Linked DNA regions of Homo sapiens: region 1 is linked to region 2. A link means that fine-mapping ties the variant in region 2 to the expression of a gene that starts in the linked region. Tissue or cell type: whole blood. Region 2 holds a variant in brackets; the other region holds the start of a gene. All regions are shown on one strand. Distances are between the middles of the regions.

Region 1 (2,500 bases), 66 kb before region 2:
ATAATAGCCTAAAGCAAAACTAACGAATCACATAAAAAATCCCCCACGCTATTGTCCTTAGTAGTTTACATTGTGCTAGATACTTTCGCATGTATATGCATACAACTTCTATTCTGTTTTTAAACTTTGCATTACATATACATTCTTCCATATTATATGATCTTCATAAAAATAGTTACATGGCTGCATAAAAAACCATGCGGTTCCTGGACTATTATGCTATTCCCTCATTCCCCTTTTGTTATTAATGGAATATAGCAAAGAACATCTTCTGTACGATTATTTGTCAAGAATAGGGCCGGTGCGGTGGCTCAGGTCTGTAATCCCAGCACTTTGGGAGGCCGAGGCGGGCTGATCGCTTGAGGTCAGGAGTTCGTGACCAGCCTGGGCAACATGGGAAAACCTAAACGTCTCTACTAAACATGTCTCTACTAAAAATACAAAAATTAGTGGGGCGTAGTGGTGCACACTGTGGTCTCAGCTACTCCAGAGGCTCAGGTGGGAGGATCACCTGAGCCCCGGAAGTTGAGACTGCAGTGAGCCGTGTTCGCACCACTGCACTCCAGCCTGGGCGACAGAGGGAGACCCTGTCTAAAAACAAAAAAATAAAAAATAAATTTCTAGCAGTACAGTTACAATGTCAAAGGATAAGGTACACATTTTTTAAAAACTTTTCTCTTTCTCCTCCTGAGATAACGAAATACAGTAGCGTATGAACAACTCTTCATACATTACTCTCCAAGGTTTATCTTGTTAATCCTTTAAGACGTATCATCTCCCCATCCTTGGCTGCACCTGAAAAGAGCGGGAGTCGGCAGGTAACCTGATCTCCTCCACCAGGTGAGTCCCGGATGGAGGTGTCAACTACAAGACCAGGAGCAGAGCATTCCTGGGGTTTTGCTGGAACCATCGGCGTGGGAATGCTTTCTCTTCCCTCGCCCGAAAGACGCCAAGTTCCCGGCAGGCAGCGGACTCGGTTCTAACCTTCCTCGCCCCAGCCTCTCGGAGCGCCCTGCACGCAGTGGGCGTCTAATAAAATGCAGTTGGCCCTGCTTGGACAAAAGTTCTCCCTTAAGTGGCCCGGACAGTAAACCCCTCCAGGTGCCACAGAGCTGCCGCGCCCGCCGCCGCTTTGCTCCCTGCCTGCTCCCTCCCAGCGTTCCGCGTGGGACCCTCGGCGGCAGCTCACACCCTCCCTGACTGCCGGTGCCCGCCAGGGCACCCTGCGCGCGCCCGCCGGCCCCGCCCCGGCCCCGCCCCGCCCCGCCGGCCCCGCCTCCCGTCTCCTCCCCGCCCCCCGGAGCCGACGAGTGGCGGCGGCGGCCCCAGGTCCCGGGTCCCTCAGACAAGAGGGCGGGTGGAGGAGGAAGCGGCCGAGCCCAGAGTTCTGCTCCGGCGCCCCCGAGCACCGCCCGCTTCAGCCGACCAGCCCCGTCGGCTACTGGGCCTCGCCGAGACGAGAGGAGGGAAAGGCCTCGGCGGCCGCGAGGAGGCGGCGGGGGCGCGGGCGGAGGCGGCGCGGGCGGCCGCGGCTGCCGCTTTGTTGTGCGGCCCGGGCCGAGGAAGGAGAAGTGGGAGGAGGGGGGAGCTCGGCGTCCCGCTCCCTCCGCGGCTCATGGCGACGACTCTCGGCACATCCGGGACCCTCCGGCCGTGGCGGCCGAGGCGCCGGCTGCTCGGGCCCCAGCCCCGGCCGCTGTGGTGACTCCGCCGCGCCTCGCCGTCGCCCCCGTGCCGCCCGCCGCCCCCGCCGCCCCCGCCGCCGGGGACATGTCTAACCCCGGAGGCCGGAGGAACGGGCCCGTCAAGCTGCGCCTGACAGGTGAGGGGGGGCGGCGGGCCGGGCTGGGCAGCCGCGGGGTGGGCGAGCTGGCGGGGGGTGCCTGTGGCCTTGGGAAGGGCCAGGGTCGCGATCAATGATGAGTTGGGGGTCGGAGGAATGGGAAGGCCTAGTTCAGGGAGAGTAATTGGAAAACCACTTGCTCTGGTTTGGACATTGTTTAAAAAGCCGAGGATGACTCGGGGCGGGGGGTGGTGTTTTGTGGAGGGGAGAATACACCGGTTCGCATCGCAGGCGGATTTCAGGTCGGAAAGTCTTGGTCAAGGAGCCAGACGCTGCCTCCCGGGGCTCGGGGAACAGCCCCTGGGCTACCGCCCAGGTGAGATCGTGAAGGGGATGAAGAGCTCCCGTGGCGAGGATTATTGAATCCGGTTGCTGACTGCGCGCAGTAAACACTCCTTAAAGATGGAGCGCTTAACGGGAGGGTGTGCGTGTGTGTTCCCGGGTTGTTACCTTGCACACACCCAGTTATGCCCGCATGAAAAACCTTTACTCCCCGCCGCCGGCCACCGCTGCCCGGGCCACACACCTTAAACTCATGTCTCTGAGGTGAGGAGACAGGTTGACTTTTCCGGTGTGCCTGTCTGATCCGACGGCTTGGGCTCATTGTACACTGTGTTTTGGAAGTGTCTGATTGTAGGGTGGCATGTTTGGGGTTGT
Region 2 (2,763 bases):
CCATCTCGGCTCACTGCAATCTCTGTCTCCTGAGTTCAAGCATTTCTCCTGTCTCAGCCTCCCGAGTAGCTGGGACTACAGGTGCCCACCACCACATTCAGCTAATTTTTGTATTTTTAGTAGAGATGGGATTTCACCATGTTGGCCAGGCTGGTCTCGAACTCCTGACCTCAAGTGATCCGCCTGCCTCGGTCTCCCAAAGTGCCGGGATTACAGACATGAGCCACTGCGCCCAGCCTAGTTTTAGGTATTTTTGAATTTCCTACCTAGAAGATGATTCGGCTTTATTTTTTATTATTAAAAATTCTTTTAAAATTAGAAACAGTCTCACTCTATTGCTCAGGCCAGAGTGCAGTGGCATAATCATAGCTCAGTGTAGCCTCTAACTCCTGGACTCAACTGATCCTCCCACCTCACCCTCCTCAGTAGCTGGAACTACAGGTGCATGCCACCATGCCCAGCTAATTTTTTTTTTAAGGTAATTTTTTGTAGAGATGGGGTCTTGCTATATTGCCCAGTCTGGTCTTGAATTCCTGGGCTCAAGATTCTCCCTCCTTGGCCTCCCAAAGTATTTGGATTACAAGCGTGGGCTGTGATGCCCAGCCCAGTGGTTCAGCTTTTAAAATTGGTATTCAGCATCCCCATTCTCATGACACAAGCCTCTTCCTTTCTTTAGTCTTCCAATATAATTATATGAACCTTTTTGGTTAAACCATTGTTCCATGTTTACATTATTATGATTATGTAAATATCCATAGTTGGGTCACAGGGGTACAAGAATTACATTTTCTTTCTTGACAACTTTTGTTTTTTCTGAAGTTAGTAGCTACTTTTCCCATTTGTTTAGTTATCTATTTATCTCCTAGATAGAAATGAGAAGTTATATGTCATAATCCTCAGACTCTCCTATAGAACTAAAGATCTTTTCTCCATATATTCAGTTCTGTCAGTATTCCATTGGCTTTTTTTCTTCTTGGAGATAACCCTCCTGGGAGTCTGTGTTCTCTTTCTTTAGTCTTGTGTGATGGTTCTCTAAGACCCACTGCGCAGTTGTCCTGGGACTTGCCTTTATTGTTATGTTGGCAATTTCCTTTGTCTCTTCTAGGTTTAGTGACTTCCTTTTTTTTTTTTTTTTTTTTTTT[TG/G]TTTACTCTCCTGTTTCGGTGAACTTTATCTTCCATTGTCATTTTGAGAAATAATACAAAGATGGGAAGAAAGTTGAGATCTTATCAGAAGATATACTTTGACTTCTTATCTTTTGATATGGTTTGAATATAGGCTTCTAGGTGAAATATCACTTTACCTCCAAATGTTGAATACATTGCTCCATTATCTTCTAGGTTTAGATCCATACTGTTGAGTAGAAATATAATGTAAGGCACAGATGGGAGCTCATCTATAATTTTAAATTTCCTAGCATCCACGTTAAGATAAGTAAAAAGAAACAGATGACATTAAGCATAATAAACTGGGCATAGTGGCTTGCACCTGTAATCCAGCTACAACATAACGAGACCCTGTTTCTTAAAATGAAGCATAATAATATATTTTATTTAATTCAGTATATCAAAAATACTTTCAACATGTCAGTATAAAAATATTGAGCTACTTACACATATATGTATATATACATATTTACTATGTCTCTAAAAAATCAGCGGTTTTCTCATTTTATGTTAAGAAAAAAAAAAATCAGTGGTTTATTTTGCAGCTTGCCTCAATTTGGACTAGCCACACTTGAAGTCCTCAAGGGTCTCGTGGTTGGTGGGTACCATTTTGGAAATTGTAGGTTTAGAGTATTGCTGATGGCATCCTGATTTTGATCTTTCATGACTGTTGTTTTCCACTGGAAGTTTCTTTATTCCTCTGTCACTGTTATTTTCTTTTAAAAAAAATTGTGGCCACCCTAGTGGGTATGAAGTTGTATCTGGTCATGGTTTTGAGGTGCATCATGACTAATGATGTTGAACATCTTTCTTGTACTTATTAGGTTTTATCTTACAATTAATATTAATTGGCTGTCAGAAGCATCTCTTATGATTGTTTCCAAAGTCATTTTACAAAACCCTTGCCTTTAATTGGCTAAGTATACAAACAAAATCTAATAATTAAATTTTAGCCCAAAATCCTGAGTACATATTTTGGTCTATATGGTAACATTGTATTCACCTATAGAGGTGTCCCTCTCTCCCTTTCAACAAAACATCCTGAAACTTGTTTATAAATCATGTATTTGTTAGTAAGTCAAAGTTTTAATAGAAGCTAATAGAGCCCTCTATTTAACTTTCAATTGCAAAAGGAATTTACTGTTTTTGTTGCCATGTATGTTATATTACATGAGGTTTCATTAAAGTGAGAGCATGTACTTCTCTATGTATAAGAAAAGGTAATATTTTGGATTCATTTCTGGCCCAGGAATATTTGGACAGAATGTTTGTGACATGTACGCTTAAGTAATACAATATATTTCATAATTTTTAGTAATTCAGAGTTAGGCTATCTTCCAGAAGGTCTATAATTAGCAATTTCTTATTATGATTTAATGTAGAGCTTCCCAACCTTTTCATATCATGGTACACATAAAAAATATGGCACATTGGACTACACAGATGAAGTTGCTTAAGCCAGTGGTGCGTTGCCCTGAGGACTGAGGTAATCAATATATGTATTTCAGCATACCTGTAAACCAGGCTTACTAGTTGGACAACTGGTTTAACGTAACTTTTTTTTTTCTTTTTTTGAGACGGAGTTTTGCTCTTGTTGCC

The links. PIP is the estimated chance that this variant, and not a neighbour inherited with it, causes the effect.
Region 1: SMURF2 starts here. The variant in region 2 is fine-mapped to the expression of SMURF2 in whole blood (INTERVAL, PIP above 0.99).

Annotation. Positions count from the first base shown.
Region 1 is chr17:64,661,151-64,663,650 of GRCh38, reverse strand. It overlaps SMURF2 (SMAD specific E3 ubiquitin protein ligase 2), which reads left to right and starts at 1,344. Exons shown (of 19, transcript NM_022739.4): 1 at 1,344-1,822. The coding sequence starts at 1,771. RefSeq lists an enhancer at 492-1,050 and silencers at 1,201-1,600, 1,651-1,850.
Region 2 is chr17:64,594,966-64,597,728 of GRCh38, reverse strand. The region is part of intron 3 of SMURF2 (SMAD specific E3 ubiquitin protein ligase 2); the gene reads left to right. Among named protein-coding and RNA genes, the nearest start is that of SMURF2, 66 kb to the left of the region's middle. The variant TG/G (reference allele first, on the strand shown) is at 1,143.